Linked DNA regions of Homo sapiens. The protein of the gene in region 1 purifies or fractionates together with the protein of each later gene. This does not show direct contact. Each region holds a gene or a part of one and is shown on either strand. Other genes may lie near its edges.

What was found. Proteins that work in one complex are often made in the same cells at the same time.
Region 2: the proteins of NELFA (region 1) and MCM9 purify together in Homo sapiens (affinity purification with mass spectrometry; 2 studies listed by BioGRID and IntAct, with this or other methods). This does not show direct contact.
Region 3: the proteins of NELFA (region 1) and SUPT5H purify together in Homo sapiens (affinity purification with mass spectrometry; 3 studies listed by BioGRID and IntAct, with this or other methods). This does not show direct contact.

What each region holds. Positions count from the first base shown.
Region 1 is NC_000004.12:1,984,961-1,991,985, forward strand, and holds part of NELFA (negative elongation factor A), read right to left. Parts: intron 6,756-7,025; coding exon 6,584-6,755; intron 4,910-6,583; coding exon 4,748-4,909; intron 3,048-4,747; coding exon 2,958-3,047; intron 1,518-2,957; exon of another isoform or gene 1,443-1,517; coding exon 1,312-1,442; intron 1,224-1,311; coding exon 1,154-1,223; intron 905-1,153; coding exon 816-904; intron 1-815. UniProt on the Homo sapiens protein: Essential component of the NELF complex, a complex that negatively regulates the elongation of transcription by RNA polymerase II.
Region 2 is NC_000006.12:118,925,142-118,932,166, forward strand, and holds part of MCM9 (DNA helicase MCM9), read right to left. Parts: intron 6,598-7,025; 5' UTR 6,583-6,597; coding exon 6,279-6,582; intron 3,538-6,278; coding exon of another isoform or gene 3,447-3,537; intron 1-3,446. UniProt on the Homo sapiens protein: Component of the MCM8-MCM9 complex, a complex involved in the repair of double-stranded DNA breaks (DBSs) and DNA interstrand cross-links (ICLs) by homologous recombination (HR).
Region 3 is NC_000019.10:39,448,575-39,455,599, reverse strand, and holds part of SUPT5H (transcription elongation factor SPT5), read right to left. Parts: intron 2,245-7,025; coding exon 2,079-2,244; intron 1-2,078. UniProt on the Homo sapiens protein: Component of the DRB sensitivity-inducing factor complex (DSIF complex), which regulates mRNA processing and transcription elongation by RNA polymerase II.

The DNA of each region.
Region 1 (7,025 bases):
CTTCCGGCATGTGCTAACACATGGCCCGACCCGGAGCTCCACTGCCACAGGCTGTGGCCCCCCGAGCTAGAGCAGGAAGGCGGGGGCCACTCTCCCGAGCTCCCTGGGCTAGACAACGGGACCCCTGGCCCCTGGCGCCCCAGCAGAGTTGGGGACTGAGCCGCTCCTGTGTAGGAGAGGGGAGGGGTTGAGGAGCCCAAACAGCCCATCTTGAGCACAGAAGGAGCGATGCTTTTTCTTACCACGAAGCGTTGATATAAAGGAAGATGCTCATGTTAAGAAACACAGAACACGCAGCGGCGGGAAGAAAGGAGCTTATTATCCTGAAGTGACCCCACAGTGTGGCCTCCTCCAGGCCCTGGCCTCAGACGACCCACTGCAGCCTCTGTGCACCTGCCGCGCCCCGTGGCTGCCTCCCACCCGCAGGCAGGGCCTGGTCTCCGGGACACTGAGGCCTCTGACCACCCAGCACCCCCACAGGCCTGTCCTGCACCCATTCACGGCCACGTGCAAGGCTTAGGTCCCACCAGCCCTGCCTGACGGGACACTGAGGCACAGGGTTGAGGAGGACTCCCCTGGCAGCCCCTCCAGCAAGCGTGGGGCAGGTTCCCGCTCCAAGCCTGAGTCAGATGCCCATGTCAGGGCACGGCCCACACTGCCTCTCATGTACATATACGTATATATACATAAATACAGACTGCACACATATGTACATACATATATATATTCTCCGACAGAGCACACTAGTGGCCACAATCGGAACAAAAGGGGCACCCGCAGTGGTGCCAGACATGGGGTGCAGCCCCGAGCCCTACCTGCGTGGACACCAGGCCGGCTGCGTAGTCCGGGGTGGCGTTCTCCACCACCGTTTCCTCCTTGGCCGGCTTCTCCACCACCTCCGCATCTGTGGACAAAACAGGAGTCCTCGCCAGTGCCCGGGCGCGTCTGCAGTGTCAGCTCAGGGCAGCGGCAGGGAATCAAACAGCTTCCCAGGGGAGGCCACCAAGGAGCGAGGAGAAAAGCAGGCACCCACCCACGGAGAGCAGCCTCACGGGGCACAGCCCTGCCCGCCGAGCGTGGGCACAACCCACCCCAACTGGGCAGGGCCCGCAGGGACCCCCATTGCCGCCGACACGCAGGCCCCAACCCCCACCGAGAGTCTTCCTTCTCCGCTTCGCCTCTCGGCCAGCGCCAACCATATCCAGCTCAGAGATGTCCAGCAGCTGCCAAGACAAGCACAGCCCTGCCTTAGTGACGGCACCAGGGCGCAACGGGCCCCGGGGTGCCACAGGAGCTGGGGGACGGGCCTACCTTCACACCTCGTTCCTTCCGCAGCAGCGTCCTGGAAGGCGGGATGGGGGTCCGGTTCCCTGTGGGGCTGAAGACGCTGGGCGCCGTGGGGCTTCTGAAGGGCGCCTGCTTCGGGATGCCTTTGAGTGGGGCTGGAGGACGGCAACAGTCAGGGCGCCAGCAGCAGTGACCGGCAAACGTCCCCCACCCCGAGCTCAGAACGTCCCACCCTCTTCTAGGCTAGCGCCGCAGAGGGGAAGGGCCAAACCCCTGGCGGGCAGCGGGCAGGACCCCCAGGATCCCGGACCTCAAGGAGCAGGGGAACGCCTGGAGCCACGACCTCACACTTTGCCAAGACACCAAACAAAGACAGCGGCACCCCAGCCCAGCCACAGGATCTCACCAGGTGGAGTCTCTCACCAGTGTGGCGGGGGCTGAGCTCTGCCTCCTTCCTGTGCCTCCACCGGCAGGGGCATGAAGCCAGGCGCCTGGGCTTGAGGGCCGCCCTCCCAAGCCTTCTCCCCGTCCCCTGAGGACACTCCTGAGGCCTACCTACGCTGTTACCCACCAGCGCCCACACGCACCCTCCAAGGCGTGCGTGGCTCTCATGGTGCCAGGCCCGGAGAGAGGACGCCCGGGGGATGGTGCCATCAGCACACCGGGCCAGGCTGGACACACTGCTCAACGGCTGGCCCACCCTCCCTGGGCCAGCAGGTGCAGCCCTGGCCCTGGGATGCCTGGTGGGGGTGGAAAGACAAGGGTCTGCTCCAGGCGGGGTAGAGGAGAGCAAGGTGGAACCTCGGCTGCGGTGGGCAGGAACATGACCCAGGGACGGCCCCCCACACAGCGACAATAGTCAGCAGACCCAAGATGCCTTCTACTAGGTCCCATGTGAACACTGTGGGATTATGGGAGCCCAAATAAACTAAGCCAGGCTGGTCTGGGAGCTGCATGGAGAGCGCCTGTAAGGCTGCCCTTTCAGCCCCACCCATCTGCAAGTTTACCCAGCTGTCTCAGCACAGGACGACACCCGTCCTGCCCTCTGGCCCCCAGGTCACTATCCAGCACCCTCTGGGGTGAGTATGCCCTGCCATGGTTCCCAGGGGCACGCCGTCTTCCTGTGATCAGGGTGCATCCTGCTTAAGCTCACGCCCAGCCCTGAGAGCACAAATCAGGAAGGGCAGATGGAGGGGTGCGGGGGGCACAGCCCCACGGGCAGCTGAGCACGGTCACGTCCTCCCCGCGGAGCCGCCCAGGGACACTCGGAACCCAAGAGCAGCACTTGGGGCCGAAAGCCCGAGCTGGGAAGGCCGAGAGCCACCGGTGCCAACAGCAGAGGAGCAGGGGCCAGCACTGTCCTCAGATCCCGGCCTTCCTGTCTCCATGCCCAGCGGTGTCCTCAGATCCCGGCCTTCCTGTCTCCGTGCCCAGCACTGTCCTCAGATCCCGGCCCTCCTGTCTCCGTGCCCACACATCCTCCCAGGGAGCTCCCCAAGGGGAGAAGCCGGTGAAATTGCCCCAGTGCCTTCGCTTTCCCACGGGCTCCCAACACTGCTGCCTGAAGACCATTCACAGGCACCACCTCCCCAACAGGGAGCGGGTCTCCAGGTGAAGCCCTTAGCTCTGCCCCAAAAGCAAGGCTCACGGCACCAGGGTGGGGGCCTTACTGGTGGTGTCCATCTTCCGCAGCAGCCCCCGGCCCTTGGCGTGGAAGGGCACCCCGGCGCTCCGCTTCAACTGCTGGGCGGTCTCCGTGGCTGGAAGGAAGAGGTCACATATGTCAGGGATCCTCAGAGCGAGAGCCCTTGGCCCTTGTAAAAACATCTCTGTCAAGTGGATTCATCCGACGGCCTGAGCCGTGAACGCTGCATTCTCTCTAAATGAGCAGCTGTTCCGAGCCGGGCCTGACACCAGCTCGCACTTTACAACGAGTCAGAAACTCACTCAGGTGAGCAAGTTTCGGGAGCTGGGTGGCTGTGGCTGCACCTCCCAGGACCCCATGGCAGGGGGGAGGCAGCCGAGGAGGAGCTGAGGGACCTCATGAGCCCTCTCCATCGACCCGGGCCTCCCCCTGGCCCAGTGGTAGCACCGTCCTCGCTGAGGGTCAGCAGGCACGGTCTAGATACAAAAATATGAGGAAGAAACAAACGAAGAGATATTCCTGACTTGGTTCAGTGTGGCTGAAGGGTCAGGGGACACCGAGTGCCCAAAGCAGACCCTGTGGCCACTGCTGGCCTCCAAAGGGGGTGGGGCCCAAGGGGCCAGCAGAGTCCTTCCTGGGCTACCCAGTGGGCCCGGGGCTGCACGGAGCCTCCCGGACAGCGCTGGGCCCTGGCTGCTGCCCGTTCCAGCCAAGATCCATGCACAGCTGCTGTCAGCCTTTTATTTGGATTCTCTGGAAACGGGGTATTGATGTACATTATAAATATTAATTCCATAACCATTCAAAATAAAACGATGTTATTGAAATCTTTGTCGTGCTTTGGGAAAACGTTAACTGAAATGATTAAATATCTTTCAAGTGGAATTGAGATCACCCGCCACTCCAGAAGGCAGCAACGTGAGAGTAAGGAACGTGCCCCTCCAGCCATTCACCCTGGCACCCACCGTGCCCAACAGCGTGACTCAGCTGGCACAGAGTTCATTTGGTCACAGAGATTAGAGATGCCTTCACCTAAAATTCTGAAGTTGGTGGGTTTTTTTTTTTTTTTTGAGATGTTGTTTCGCTCTTGTTGCCCAGGCTGGAGTGCAGTGGGGCAATCTTGGCTCACTGCAACCTCCGCCTCCCAGGTTCAAGTGATTCTCTTGCCTCAGCCTCCCAAGCAACTGGGATTACAGGCATGCACCACCACAGCCAGCTAATTTTTGTATTTTTAGTAGAGACGGGGTTTCACCATGTGGGCCAGGCTGGTCTCGATCTCCTGACCTCAGGTGATCTGCTGGCCTCAGCCTCCCAAAGTGCTGGGTTTACAGGTGTGAGCCACCATGCCCAGCCTAAATTCTGAAGTTTTTAAAGCATGTTTTCAGAACATAAAGTTTAATATAGTGATAAACTTCTAACAAAAAACTTTATGCAGAACTTTATCTTCTTTTTCTTGAGACAGGGTCTCACTCTCTCCCAGGCTGGAGTGTAGTGGTGTGATCACAGCTCACTGCAGCCTCAACCTCGTGGGCTCAGGTGATCCTCCTACCTCAGCCTTCCGAGTAGCTGGGAGCACAGGCACGCACCACCATGCCCGGCTAATGTTTTGGTACTTTTGGTAGAGATGGGGTTTCTTGGCTGGTCTCAAACTCCTGGGCTCAAACGACCCACCTGCCCCAGCCTCCCAACAGGTGTGAGCCACCATGCCTGGCCCAGAACGCCACCTTGAAGGGGCAGTCTTGGTACCTTAGAACCTAAGAAACCTATGACTGGAAACTACAAAGACAATGCCCGATGGCGGCCGCGGCCACTCACACTTCTGCAGCAGCTCCGCCCGCAGCGTGGCGCTCTTGGGTTTCCGCTTTAACTGAAAATGCTTCACCGGGGGAGTGAGGGGTCCCGCGAGGGTCGTCAGGGCGTTTTTGTTCAAGTACTGGCACTCCAGTGGCAGCATGGCAGACGCTTCACACTCACCCACTGCCGGTAAGAACCACATGAAGTTAGGGGCGCCCAGGCCGCAGACCTCCCGGCTGAGAGGAGCTGGCGGCTGCCCAGCCCCACACCCTCCTCAGTTAGGGTTAGGTCATGGGAGCTTCGGCTGTCCCCTGAGGTCCTCGAGACTGACTCCCCACGGCTCCAGCAGAACACCCAGGAGCATTTGCAGAACAGGAATGCCTGAGAGGCGGGCATGCCTTGAGAGGGCTGTAAACTGGAAACCTCTGGCACCGCGGACACCAAGAACCACAGGCGGACATAGATACAGTGATTCCTGGAGGGCTCCAGACACTTGTAGAACATGAAATGTTAACAGATCCCACCCCCACGTAAGAAGGACCCCCGATCTGTGGCTTCTCTCTTCCCGTCCCCGAGGGTAGCCAGGCTGGTGGTCTCTCCTGGAACCCTGGCCCTCATCCAAACTGCCCACATCCATTTCCTCAGCCTGTGTGCTCACCCACGGTTCAGATCCCAGAAACTGCCCCACGAGGGACAGGCGACCTCCCACCTGAACTGGCTACGTGCCCCACCTGGAGAAAAAGCACAGGCAGGCACATGAGAGTTCACCGGCCTCAGCCTTCCTGCCCGCGGGACACTCCTGAGACACGAACGGGTGGGGTGGGGTGGACCTGTCCAGACCACTGCTCCAGAGGCATCTGTGTGGTGTGTGTGACCTCACAGGTGGGGAGAGGTGCCACTTGCAGGGGGGTGGCCAGCAGGGCCCCTGCAGGAGTGTGCAGCCTCGATGTCTCCATCCCACAACCCTGTCTCTCTGGGTGCTGCCCTTGAAGGAGCTGGGGCACAACGTTTGGGCTCTGAGGAGCCAGTTCCAATTGTCCAAAGCAGGAGAGAAACTCAGAAAAGCACAAGCATCAAGCATCCCATCAAGACATGTTCTTCAAATCCATCTACAAATAGTTGTTTCTTTTAAGAGATACATTCTCACCCTGTTACCCAGGCTGGAGTGCAGTGGCGCGATCATGGCTCACTGCAGCCTTGGCCTCCCAGGCTCAAGTGATCCTCCTGACTCAGCCTCCCAAGTACCTGGGAGGACAGGCATGTGCCATCACGCCCACCTAATTTTTATTTTTTGTACAAATGGGTTCTTGCTATGTTTCCCAGGCTGGTCTCGAACTCCTGGGCTCAAGCAATCTGGCCATCTCAGCCTCCCAAAGTGCTGGGGTTACAGGAGTGAGCCACGGAGCCCAGCCTTGTGAATATTTTCTAAGTGACTTTCAGTTCACATTTAAACAACTAAATCGTTGATATTTTCAACATGCATTTCTGAGCATGTACTCTGGGCCAGGGAATGCTCTGGGCCCTAGAACCTAGGATCTACAGATACCACCTGAATGGGCAGAGCCCCTACCCTCACGGAGCCGACCAGAGAGAGACGGCGAGTGGCGTGACACAGCCTCCCACTGACACCGCAGCAGTGAGGATGGGGCCTGTGGGCTGTTTGGAGTTTGTTTTCAAAGATGGCAAAAGCCAGGCAGCAGCTTACGGGGGAGGATGGTGCATATACAGTTAATATTCTAGGGACCAGGACACACGGAAAAACGTAAAGGTCTAAAAATCAAATTCATTTCAGAAAAAAATTTTTCAAGAAAGATCCATTTCCCTCCACCCAACATGAATTAAAGCAGCACAACATACCCTTTTCTCTAAGTTCTCCCAAAATATCCTGAACGTTGGGATTCTGCTCCTCCAGCTCCAGGTTAAGCGAGCCTGTGTCCGGAAAGGACTTCAAGATGTCGGCGACCATGAGCACCCAGGGGTCCGAGTCGAGGCTGGCGAGCTGGATGATCTCCATTAGGGCGCCCTTCATCTGCAAAATAGGATGCTGCCGGCGCCACCATGCCCCTGCCCACTTCCAAGCCCACTCCCTGCTGAGCTTCCGGATGGGCACTGGGCAGTGGCCGGGCTCTCTGGCAGTTGCCCCCAACACTTCCTCCTGAGGGCTCCCCTTCCTCTGAGCCCCCCGCCTCACCCCAGGGCCACCTTGCTTCCCTGAGCAGCACAGCCTCTGCCAGGTTGCAAGGCCCCGGCATCCGGTGCCCTCCCAGCAGCCTCCCACCTCCCAGCAGCACCCAGTCCA
Region 2 (7,025 bases), on another chromosome or scaffold:
GGAAATTCCCTTTTTCTCATGTTTGGCTACAATGCACCATTGGGGTGGAAAGATGCTGGCTATAAAGGCTAATTCCTAACAGGTTTATTGAAATAGCAACTGTTATGCCGGTTCATGTCTCCTGTCTTGTCCTCAGTATTTAGCGGTTCAAAAACCAGGTAGGTACGCCTACTGAAGGCCCATCCATCAGATTGTCCAGCCCATGAGAAATGCCATAATAGGAATCATTATACCTTAAGTTTCTATGGTCAGCATATTTTCTCCTAGTTGATACATCTATTCTGAAAGCCAATCAGAAGGTAGTTTAGGAAGTATGAGGGGAAAAAGCAAATTAGAGTAACTGAATGTTTAAGGTGCCAGGCTATGTTAACCTACTGTTACAGGTTACAAGTCTACAGATAGACTTGAATTTTCTCTGTTGGTTGGCTGAAATTCTCTCTCCATACACTGTAGAGTGTATAGACAAACAAGGTGGCCATTGCCAACATTTGCCCCTATGACTCTTTTTTCTATGCTTCTAAGACTGACTTGCCCATTTTCTAATGAACATATTCATTATTTACATTAATTCAGATTGCATCACATTTTGCCATTAAGGGAGACACACTTTTCGTTCATATCCTAGAATGTTAAAAAACAAGAAACAGCCCAGAAATCTCTCTCTCTTGTTTACCTGGCCTTAACTGGAATATATATTGTAATACATCTTAACACTGCTTGTAGATTCTCAGTTACATTTATTTTGCTCCCTACATGAATACTTTAAAAAAAATATGAATACTTAAAAAAAAGCAAGATATAATTCACATGCCATAAAATTTACCCTATAAAGTAGACAATTCAGTGGTAATTAGTATATTCACAATATTGTATAACCATCACCACTAATTCCAGAATATTTTCATAATTTCAAAAAGAAACCCTGTACCCAGTAGCAGTCACTCCCCATTCTTCCATAACCCTAGCTGCTGGCAACCATTGATCTACTTTTGGTCTTCATGAATTTACCTATTCTGGAAATTTCACACGTAGATGCTCCGTGACTTACAATGGGGCTACATCTCAATAAACCCATCGTAAATTGAAAATGTTGTAAGTTGAAAGTGCATTTAGTACACCTAACCCACTGAACATCATAGCTTAGCCTACCTAGCCTACCTTGAACATACTCAGAATACTAACATTAGCCTACAGTTGGGCAAAATAATCTAACACAAGGCCTATTTTATAATTAAGTGTTGACTATTTCATGTTATTTATTGAATACTACACTAAAAGTGACAAACAGAATAATTTATGGGTGCTCAAAGTATAATTTCTACTGAATCACTTTCGCATACTCATAAAGTCAAAAAATGTAAGTCAGGGATATCTGAACAAAATCATACAATATGTGGTCTTTTGAATCTGGCTTTATTTACTTAGAATAATGTTTTCAAGATTCATTCCTGTTGTAACATATACAGTACTTCACTCTTTTTATGACTAAATAATATTCCACTGTTTAGATATACCGTATTTTGTTTATTCATTTATTAGTTGATGGACATTTAGGTTGTTTCCACTTTTTGGCTATTATGAATAATGCAACTACAAACATTTGTATGCAAATTCTTGTTTGAACAGTTTTCGATTATCTTGGGCATACAGCTAAGGAGTAGAACTGCTGGGTCACATGGTTATTAAAATAATTTTTTTAAATAATTTTATTTTTATGTTTGCAAACAGTCACTAAGTACTCTCTATTGTACATATACAGAAGGATACTCGAGTGGGAAATATGATAATTAACCCAATTTGCTTCTCGAAATATAAACAGAATGTACCAACAATTACTTCTACGAAGGAAGGTAAAAAGGAGAATAGAAAAAAAATAGGTAAAGAAAATTTGCTTTAACAAAAATTCTTTGGGTTTCTGAAATATTCATTCTCTCTTCCTTGGCCCTAAAGAAATATCACTTTTGCCTCCCATTTCTAGTCCCCTCATCTCAGTTCTGCTTCAGATGCAAATTGATTGTTCAGTTTAAATTATATAGTCAGTATATTAAAACAAGAAAAACTAAGATCAGGAGAACCACATTACAGAAAATGTGGTGTTACTCTGACGTTATGCATGATTGAAGAATGCCCAATGAGATTACAGACTGCCTAGCATAATTTAGAAAAGTCTTTGGATTTTTGGCTGGACGTGGTGGCTCATGCCTGTAATCCCAGCACTTTGGGAGGCCGAGGCAGGTGGATCACCTGAGGTTGGGAGTTTGAGACCAGCCTGACCAACATGGAGAAACCCCATCTCTACTAAAAATACAAATAATTAGCCAGGTGTGGTGGTGCATGCCTGTAATCCCAGCTACTCGGGAGGGTGAGGCAAGAGAATCGCTTGAACCTGGGAGGCGGAGGTTGCAGTGAGCCGAGATCGTGCCACTGTACTCCAGACTGGGCAACAAGAGCAAAACTCTTGTCTCAAAAAAAAAAAAGCAAGAAAAGAAAGAGAAGTCTTTAGATTTTCAATGTGATGAAGTGATGTATCAATGAAGTCTTACATAATATAAACTGTATAGACAGACACTTGTTATTTTTGGCTTAAAAACAAATTCTGGTTTAACAACAAAGCTGTGTAATTTAATTGTAGTTTTATTCCTAGAAAGCTATCTTTAATTTGATAGTGTTTCTTACTGTAAATAGCATCTTAGAATGGAAGAATAAAACACTATATGCCCCATTGCTTCTAGAGTAACCTGAGCAATACATAATGAAGGCCAAATCTCCTTTGCTTTTACCCTTCCATGGCTTGCCACAGATCTAAGAATAAGGTACCAAATCTGGACTGGACTATAGGGCCTTTTGTGACTGGCTTCCTGTTCTATCAAGACTTCTGCGCACTTTTTCACATACAGTGCTCCCTTTGTCTCAGTGCTCTCCTCTTCACTCTGCTCCTCAAAAATGCCCACACTAAGAAGCAATGCAGTGGTTAAGAATACAGACTCAGGCCAGGCATGGTGGCTCATGCTTGTAATCCCAGAACTGGGGAGGCTGAGGTGGGCGGATCACCTGAGGTCAAGAGTTCGAAACCAGGCTGGCCAACATCGTGAAACCCTGTCTCTACTAAAAATACAAAAATTAGCCGGGTGTGGTGGCACACGCCTGTAATCCCAGCTACTCGGGAGGCTGAGGCAGGAGAATCGCTTGAACCTGGGAGGCAGAGGTTGCAGTGAACCGAGATTGCACCTGTGCACTCCGGCTTGGGAAACAGAGTGAGACTCCATCTCAAAAAAACAAAGAATACAGACTCAAGCTAGAATGCTTAGGTTTGAGTCACAACTCTGTCACTTACTAGCTGTGTGACTTTGGCTAAGTTGTAACCTCTCAGATTTCTCATCTATAAAATAACAACAGAACCTATCACACAGGGTAATAAGAAAACTAGAAGAATTCATAGCTTATACCTGTAATCCCAGTACTTTGGGAGGCTGAAGCAGAAGGATCACTTGAGGCTAGGAGTTCAAGACCAGCCTGAGCAACACAGAGACCCCACCTCTACAAAAAAAAAAAAAAATTTAAATAGCTGAGTGTGGTGGCACATGCCTGTAGTCCCAGCTACCCAGGAGGCTGAGGTGGGAGGATCGCTTGAGCCCAGAAGTTAGAGACTGCAGTGAGCTATGATTGTTGTGCAACTGCATTCCAGCCTGGGCAACAGAGTGAGACCCTGTCTCAAAAAAAAAAAAAGAATTCATACATGTAAAGTTTCTGAAAATATTACTCGGCATACAGCAAGCGCTATTTAAACATTAATTCTGGCCGGGCACCATGGCTCATGCCTGCAATCCCAGCACTTTGGGAGGCCAAGGTGGGCAGATCACCTGAGGCCAGGAGTTCAAGACCAGCCTGAGCAACATGGCAAAACTCTGTCTCTACCAAAAATACAAAAATTAGCTGGGCATGGTGGCACATGCCTGTAATCCCAGCTACTTGGGAGGCTGAGGCAGGAGGATTGCTTGAACCCAGGAGGCAGAGGTTGCAGTGAGACAAGATTGCATCACTGGACTCCAGCCTGGACAACAGAGCAAGACTCTGTCTCAAAAACAAAAACAACATACCTTGAGTGAGGCATGCATCACACATAAAAGTTTCCATTAAGCTCCCATACAATAATGCTTAATATATACATACACATGTATCTGTAGGCATGCATACACCATCTGGTAAATATTTGACTATATAGCTGTCTGCCATACAGCCCTGAGTTTTTTAAAGGAGGGAAAAACTATATTCTTTTTGGTTTCCCAAGATCCTAGCAAATGCCTACTGATGTTTTGTTCAGTAGTAACATAATTTGTAACTTACTTTTTCAGAGAATTGAAAAAATAAGCTAAATTCACCTGAAACTGATAGGGTCACTTAGGCAGACAGGATTGTATTACTTAAACTCAGTATGGAAAGGTATCTGAAAATAATGGCAGCCTAAAACTATTTCCTAAATAGCATTTCGACAACATTAACTAAAGTCCCCCTTAATAATCCTTTTGCAAACTTATTAATAGGAAACATTGGCCAGACACGATGGCTCACATCTATAATCCCAACACTTTGGGAGGCCAGAGGAGGAGGATCACTTGAGCTTGGGAGTTTAATACCAGCCCGGGTAACAGAGTGAGACTCCATCTCTAATTTTTAAAAAAGGCTGATGGGGGGGACCCTTTTTCTTGATCCCATCAAGAGATTATCTAGTACCCTGATGCATAATGATTAATACTCTTCATAATTTATCCTAGCAAGTGTAACTGCAGACAATATTTTTCATTTAAATTAAGTATTTGGTCTTTTTGGGAATCTTAACTTGCCTCCAAGAAGTTCTACTATAGTGACTCCAAACCTTTTTGGAATTCAGGAAGCATTCTTATTGATTATAAATCACCACTCTTCTCAAATGTACTATAAGGTAAATATTTATTTATTTATTTATTTATTTTATTTTATTTTATTTTTTGAGACGGAGTCTCGCTCTGTTGCCCAGGCTGGAGTGCAATGGCGCGATCTCGGCTCACTGCAAGCTCCGCCTCCTGGGTTCACACCATTCTCCTGCCTCAGCCTTCTGAGTAGCTGGGACTACAGGCGCCCGCCACCATGCCCGGCTAATTTTTTTTGTATTTTTTGTAGAGACGGGGTTTCACCGTGTTAGCCAGGATGGTCTCGATTTCCTGACCTTGCGATCTGCCCGCCTTGGCCTCCCAAAGTGCTGGGATTACAGGCGTGAGCCACCGCGCCCGGCTGCTAAATATTTATTTTTAAACAAAAGGGTATGTATGTTCTCCAACTTAATCACAGACTGCCCTCAATATTCTGGACCTGCTTTTAATTTTACCAAATCTTTCTTTCATGTAAATAGAATTAATTTGTACCAGCCTTTATTAATTTATACAATAATGGCATAGTTAAATTTTGTTTTAATTAGGGGGTTGACAGGGACTCTAGAAGTGGTTTGCAAGTGAAGAAACTGAGGCTCAGTGAGATAAAATAACTTACTAAGTCTCCCAGGTTAGGCGTGTAGCCTTTAAATCCAATTCTTCTCTTTCGCCACACTATGCCTTCCAAGAAATTACTTCCATGCAATGAACTAAATAAAAATTGTTACACTATAGTGTCACTTTTCCCTAAAATTCTTAAGTCAACTCTATCCATCCTACTAAAAAATCACTTTTAAAACAGAAAGTGAGGGGCAAGGACTCCTAGAGGCAGGAATTCAAGGATACAGCTTTGCCACCCCAAGCTGCTGATTGCTCCACTGCAGTTTCTTAACAATTAAGATGCTTTATCTGTCATGCATTCAACAAAAATGTATCGAGTAACTGGTAGGTAGACTGCACAATGCTAATACTGATCTTTAAAAATAACTAATGTCCTAAAATAGTTCTGAAGATCCCTGGACAAGATCTATCACTTTTCTAATTCTTTGTATTACCAGTTCCTTTATTGTTAGTAACCACAAAAGCTCATAAAGCTGTTTTGAATTACATTTTTAAACACAGACGTGGAAATATATAGACACACAAGTATACTGCTGTCTCCACACATTCTCCCTCCCCTCAGTGGGCAAGACTCATACTTCATGCCCACAGAACACAATTATTATTCTGCTCTAAAAGAAGTGACCATCAACTACACAACAGATATATATTTTAAGTATAAATATCAATTATTTCTTAGTGTTCTAAATCTAGTATATTTTCTCAAAATCTTTCTAGAAGATAGCATGGCAGTAAAATCCTTAAGTGATTTACCTGATATCCTGGCATGAAGATTCTGTTTCATGGAAACAGCCTCAGGCTGAGAAAGGGACTGGAGAATTGTCAAGGCTGACCTTCGCAGTGCACTATCAAAAATTGTAAGCACTTCACTGGGGAACATGTTGAAATATTCCCCGATTTCCATGTTGGTCTCAAACAGAGTCATGGCATTAACCACAACTGGGTAATGAGCATCTTCATCCCTTTCCTTCAAGATTAGAAGAATATCATTCTTATGGTATTCCGAAACATATGACTCAAACACTTGACCAACCAGTGTAACTTGATCGCTATTCATCTTGAATCTAGGTAACTAAAGAAAAAAAAAAGGATCATATTATATATTTGATACTCAAGATGTACACACAATTTAACAAAAACGATTGGTTATAAATCACACTGGCTTTGGGTCATACTATAATCACAAAATAATATCTGAATTCAAATCTTAATGAAATCTGAATTATCTGTTACAGTCACAGTACATGTACTTCAAAAATGAGTGAAGTCAAATGTAAGTCAAAGAACTATGTTGGTACTGATTATCAAAATCCAAAATAGTTCAAAGCATTTCCCATCTTTTCCCCAAATTTCCTTCATATTAACCCTGCATTAATATACAGGCATGCACCTAACAACATTTCCGGACTGCACTTATAATAGTGGTCTCATAAGATTACAATACTGTATCCTTATTGTATCTTTTCTATGCTTAGATACATAGATACCATTGTGTTACAA
Region 3 (7,025 bases), on another chromosome or scaffold:
CACCCCGCCACCACTATGTTCCCCCCATGTAATTTTTTTTGTTTAGACCGAGTCTTGCTCTGTCACCCAAGCTAGAGTGCAGCAATCTCGGCTCACTGCAACCTCCACCTCCCGGGTTCAAGCAATTCTCCTGCCTCAGCCTCCCAAGTAGCTGGGATTACAGGCGCCCGCCACCACGCCCAGCTAATTTTTGTATTTTTAGTAGAGACAGGGTTTCGCCATCTTGGCCAGGCTGGTCTCGAACTCCTAACCTCAGATGATCCACCCGCCTCAGCCTCCTAAAGTGCTGGGATTACAAGCATGAGCCACCACGCCCAGCCCCCACGTAATTTTTTTAACACACCGTTCTGTACCTTTCTTTTTCTCAAAACTACTACTAACTCAGAGCTCTCCCACAGCAGCACATGCCTCATATACTATATGGCCCATAATTTGTTTAACCAGGCCCTAATCATCAATAAACATTTAGGTCACCAAACTTTTGCAACTGCGAACAGGACTACAACAAGCATCTTTGTTCTCAGGTCTTCATGCACTCATGCAAGTTTAACCATAAAGTAAATTCTAAAGAGGAACTGCTTGGTCAAAGGGTTCCTGCATGTTAAATGCTAACAGGCACTGCCACACAGCCTTCCACACAGGCAGTGCCCACCAACACTTCCACCACCAACATATGGGTGTCCCTGGGAACCCACAGCTTTTACCCAGCATGGTATCCATTCTCTTGCTCTCCAAGAACATCCAGAGCACCTCCTGTCCCTTTGACAATAAACTACTTTTCTTCTCAGGTAAAACAGTCCCAGGAAAACAGAGGCAGGATGTGTTCTAAGTAACCCCTCTTCCCATAGGTAAGGGAAAACATGCACATTCATTATCATCATGGAAGTATGAACTAGTCTTATCTTTTTAGGAACTGATATTTGGCCGTAAATATAAAAAATCTTTTTTTAAAAAAAGTGCGGCCAGGCATGGTGGCTCACGCCCGTAATCTCAGCACTTTGGGAGGCCAGGGCGGGCGGATCACAAGGTCAGGAGTTCGAGACCATCCTAACACAGTGAAACCCTGTCTCTACTAAAAATATAAAAAATTAGCCAGGCATGGTGGCACGTGCCCGTAGTCCCAGCTACTCAGGAGGCTGAGGCAGGAGAAACAGTTGAACCCAGGAGGGAGAGGTTGCAGTGAGCCATCGCACCACTGCACTCCAGCCTGAGCGAGACTCCGTCTCAAAAAAAAAAAAAAAAACAACGACAACAACAAAATGCACCACCTTTACCTAGCAATTTGACTAACAGGGATTTAACACGTAGAACAGAGATTTTTCATCTGGGGTGGTCTGTGTTCGATGAAAAAACTACAGCTCCTATTTTCAGTAACCTGGAATTGAAATTTAGCATTTACATCAATTACATACAATGGCAACAAACCACACAATGTTAGCTGTGTCACTGGCTCTTTCACAGCACATTACAGCTATAGGTATCTCAAGGCAGCATTTACACTCACTGCTACTTGAAAATTAGATTCTCAGACTACCTACAAAGTCTTATTACCTAAATATGTTAACAAAGAAACATATGCACCAAAATGTTCTTTTTAAATATTCTGATAACTGTACTTCAATAAATTGTCCTCTTTGGAATCCTATGTATTTTGTTTTATGCATTTCAGAAGATGATTCTGAGAAGGGAACAGGGTTTCACCAGACTACAGAAGGGGCCGTAGCACGAGAAAAGTTAAGAACTTTGGTCCTTCACGCCTGTAATCCCAGCATTTTGGGAGGCCAAGGCGGGCAGATCACGAGGTCAGGAGATTGAGACCACCCTGGCTAACAAGGTGAAACCCCGTCTCCACTAAAAAATAGAAAAAATTAGCCGGGCGTGGTGGCGGGCGCCTGTAGTCCCAGCTATTCAGGAGGCTGAGGCAGGAGAATGGCATGAACTTGCAGTGAGCCAAGTTCATGCTACTGCACTCCAGCCTGGGCGACAGAGCGAGACTCCGCCTCAAAAAAAGAAAAAGAAATGGAACTAAAAGTAGAAGCTCAGCCTCTGCTCGGCACTGGCCAAGCACTATGACATACCAGCCTCGTCCAGAATGAAGCCTCCATGGCGGGGTTTCTTGGGGGGTCGGTCATCATCTTCTTCCTCCTCTTCCTCATCGTATTCCTCCTCCTCTTCCTCCTCCTCTTCGTCCTCAGGCTCTTCTTCTTTCTCACTGCCCGCTGCACTCCGCCGCTCTTCGTCTACCTACAGGGGTCAGGCAGGGTTGTAGCACCAGAATTCTGCTACCCCAAAAATCCAAAAACCAAGTTCCTCACCCTAAATCTGACCTCAGATTGGCCTGGCCAATCATAGCCCACTTTGCTCTGCATATATCCCTTTCACTCTAGCCTGGCCTCTCTGGTTACCATCCTATCTCAGCGACAGCACTGCCATCTCCCCAGCCACCCAAGCAACCCTGGGAGTTGACCCGGGCTTCTCCCTGCACTAGACCTCTTGCTCACTTTCCACCGAGTCTTTAACTATAATAGCTTGATGAAGCTTGGTCCTTGGGCCTCATTTCTTTCTCTCTCTTTTTTTTTTTTTTTTTGAGACAGAGTCCCACTCTGTCTCCCAGGCTAGAGTGCCATGGCAGAATCTTGGCTCACTGCAACCTCCACCTCCTGGGTTCAAGCAATTCTCTTGCCTCAGCCTCCTGAGTAGCTGAGATTACAGGTGTGCGCCACCACACCTGGCTAATTTTTGTATTTTTTTAGTAGACACGTGGCTTCACCATGTTGGCCAGGCTGGTCTCGAACTCTTGACCTCAGGTGATCCATCCGCCTCTGCCTCCGAAAATGCTGGGATTACAGGTGTGAGCCACAGCACCTGGCCCATCTCTTCCCATTCTACAACTCCCCAAGGCCATCTCGTCCTCTCCCTTGGCGGTGGTGGACATCTCTGTGACAGTGACTCCCATCTCTGTTTCTAGTCCACACTGCTCACGAAGATCACTGGCCACCCCTGTTGCTAATTCTGTGGCCATTCTGTATTCCCTACCATCCCAGCAGCATCTGGCACCCCAACCATGCCCTCCCTGGAGAAATGCTCCTCTCTTGGCTTCTGCCGTATCATGCTCTCCTGGTTTTTCTCAAAACTCCACCAGCTCCTCTTCAAGCTCCTCTTACTGTTAACCCCTTCAAATCTGACATCAATTACCAGGGCTCAGTCCAGGGCCACTTTGTTCTCCCTCCATGCCCTCTCTCCCTGTCCATTTTACTTTCCATGACCTCAGTTCCTGTCTCTAGAGATGACACGTGTCCTCATCTGTCTATAGAGTCCCACTTTTTTCCAGAACTCAAGACCTCCATGCACCAGCAGCATCCTGGATGCCTCCCCTAGATGGCCTCTGAGCCCTTTCATACTCACTGTGTCCCAAACTGACCTCAGTGTCTTCCCCTAGACCTGTGATGGCCTCCTCCAATTACCGACAGGCACCAAATCCTCATCCTTTCTGCCTGTAAACATCATTTCTCCAACCCATCCTTTTCCCCCAGCCCCATATATCTGAGCCTAGGCCAGGACACTGCCCTCTAACACCTGGATCCTTACCCCAGCCTCCTCCCTACTCTCCTGGCCTCTAATCCCTCTTTCCATACCAGAAACAACATTAATGGATGCATACCAAACTTCAGTCTTTAACTCATGAACTTCACGACTTCTTCCATGTCATTACTACAATCCATTTACCTAATACAGGTTGAACATCCCTAATCCAAAAATCTGAAATCTGGTCAGGTGCAGTGGCTCATGCCTGTAATCCCAACACTTTAGGAGGCCAAAGCGGGTGGATCACCTGACATCAGGAGTACAAGACCCGCCTAGCCAATGTGGTGAAACCCCGTCTTTACTAAAAATACAAAAGCTAGCCCAGCACGGTGGTGGGCACCTGTACTCCCAGCTACTCAGGAGGCTGAGGTAGGAGAATCGCTTGAAACTGGGAGGTGAAGGTTGCACTCAGCCGAGATTGTACCACTGCACTCCAGCCTGGCCAATGGACCAAGACACTGTCAAAAAAACAAACAAACAAAAAACTGAAATCTGAAAGGCTTCAAAATCTGAAACTTTTTCAGCACTGACATAATGCTCAAAGGTCATGCTCAGGCTGGGCGCGGTGGCTCGCGCGGATCACCTGAGGTCAGGAGTTCAAGACCAGCCTGGCCAACATAGTGAAACCCCATCTCTACTAAAAATACAAAAAAAAAAAAACCTAGCCAGGCATGGTGGCACGCCTGTAGTCCCAACTACTTGGGAGGCTGAGGCAGGAGGATTGTTTGAACCTGGGAGGCACAGGTTGCAGTGAGCCAAGATCGCACCACTGCACTCCAGCCTAGGCGACACAGCAAGACTCTGTCTCAAAAAAAAAAAAAAAAAAAGGTCATGCTCAAAGTAAATGTTCACTGGAGCATTCTGGATTTTCAGATTAGGGAACGCTCCACAGCAAATATTACAAAATCAAAAAAAAAAAAATCCAAAATCTGAAACACTTCTTGTCCCAAGCATTTTAGATAATACTCAATGTGTATTTTCTTCAAATCTACTCACCTTCTTAAATAAAAACATTTTTATATTATGCAATGTTTCAAAATTTAAAACTTTTTGAAGGTTTGTCATAAACACAAGGTAACTATAAAGATAAAAGCAAAACAATGTTATTAAGACCCAGCAAGATACTGCTGCCTGCTGCAGGCTCTAAGCCTAAGGCCTGTTCTCCCACCCAGAGGCGTTCAAGACACAGTAGCACTAAGATGAAACTTTCTCATGACCCAATCAAGATAAGACACACAACTGAAAAGGAAATATTCTCACTAAATGATTCAATGTAGCTTAAGGTCTTGTCCTTATTCCACCTAAAAGCACCTTTCATCATCCCCAACCTAGAATATATGGTACAGTCTTAGAAAACTGTAATCTAAAACATGAACCTGACCATTTGTTCCCCTGCTCAGCTTCAGCCAGCCTGAACTAGAAGCACATGCTCTGCCTGCTGCCTCTCCCCGTTCCCCACCATTCAGGACTGCCTCCCCAACACTAGGCCTCAGCTGCACTCAACTACTTGGACCATACTCTCTCAGTGCTGGCCATCATCCATGCTGGTTTTCTGTATAAAAAGTCCCCTCTGGGCCTGGGCGCAGTGGCATGCGCCTGTAATCCCAGCTATTCAGGAGGCTGAGGCAGGAGAATCACTTAAACCCAGAAGGAAGAGGTTGCAGTGAGCCGCGATTGTGCCACTACACTCCAGCCTGGGCGACAGAGTGAGACTTCATCTCCAAAAAAAAAAAACTGTGCCTCCCATTCACACTTCAACGAAAATATTCCCTCCTTAGCTAGGCATGGGGGCTCACACCTGTAATCCCAACACTTTGGGAGGCCAAGGTAGAAGGATCACTTGAGCCCAGGAGTTTGACACCAGCCTGGACAATCTGACAAAGCCCTGTCTCTACCAAAAATACAAAACTTAACCAGGCATGGTGGCAAAATCTTGTTGTCCCAGTTCATTGGGAGGCTGAAGCAGGAGGATTGCTTGATCCTCAGGAGGCTGAGGCTGCAGTGAGTCGAGATCACACCACTGCACCCCAGCATGGGTGACAAAGTGAGACCCTGTCTCAAAAAAAAAAAAAAAAGGCTTAGCGTGGTGGCTCATGCCTGTAATCCCAGCACTTTGGGAGGCCGAGGTAGGCGATCACTTGAGGTCAGGAGTTCTGAGACCACCCTGGCCAACATGGTGAAACCCCATCTCTACCAAAAATATAAAAATCAGCCAGGTGTGGTGGCGCACCGCTGTAATCCCAGCTACTCAGGAAGCTGAGAGAGGAGAACTGCTTGACCGTGAGGTGGAGGCTGCAGTGAGCTGAGATCGTGCCACTGCACTCCAGCCTGGGTGACAGAGCAAGACACCAAGACAAAAAAAAAAAACCAAACTAACCTTCCTCCTCCAGGCAGCCATCCCCGCCCCCTCTCCCCCAGGCAGAGTCAGGCACATCCTCTATGCTCACAATTCTCTGGGCTCCCTCCATCACAGCCCTGACCACTGTGAGCCTCCCAATAGTAGGGCCCAGTCCATCTCAGGCACTGCTGGGTCCCCCAACATCACCCAGCCCAAGGCCAAGCACAGAAGACTTCAGAAATATTTGCTTAACACAAATCTCGACTAGCCCACGATGAAGCACATTTTAACAACCCAAACTATGACAGGACCACAGGCTGATTTCTAGGAACCTTGTCATCAGTTCCCCTCTGACAGGTCCCAGAGATGCCTCTTTCCAAACCTGGCTCCTCCCTCCCAGTGGAGGATGCCCCCACCACTCTCTGCTCACCTCAGGGCTTGGATGTGCTCTCACCGTCCTCAACATCCCCTGCAGTAACTGTGTATCTATAAAACTGCCTCTGCCTTGAGACTGAGATCTCTGTAAGGGAGACTGTGACCCCAACATGCCAAGTCAAGGAACATTTGTTTTTTGTTTTTTGTTTTTTGAGATGCAGTCTCGCTCTGTCTCCCAGGCTGGAGTGCAATGGTGCGATCTCTGCTCACTGCAAGCTCTGTCTCCTGCGTTCACGCCATTCTCCTGCCTCAGCCTCCCAAGTAGCAGGGACTACAGGCACCCACCACCACGCTAATTTTTTGTATTTTTAGTAGAGACGGGGTTTCACCATGTTAGCCAGGATGGTCTCAATCTCCTGACCTCGTGATCCACCCACCTCAGCCTCCCAAAGTGCTGGGATCACAGGCGTGAGCCACCACACCCAGCCAGAACATTTGTTGAATGAATAAATGAACAGGTTACTGGAGCCATGATGGGTGAACCAGCAGCTCCCCTCAAAAGTAGCTCATTATTTGCCATCCCTACCTGTCTAGCCACAGAACCCTGTCCTTCAAGGACCATGTCATCATTTGGCTGTCTGAAAAGGCCATCCAATCCTGTCCCTGGCAGTGGGGACAGGCCTCACAGTGCCCTCTTGCCTCACCTGGTAACTGAAGAGGAGCCAGC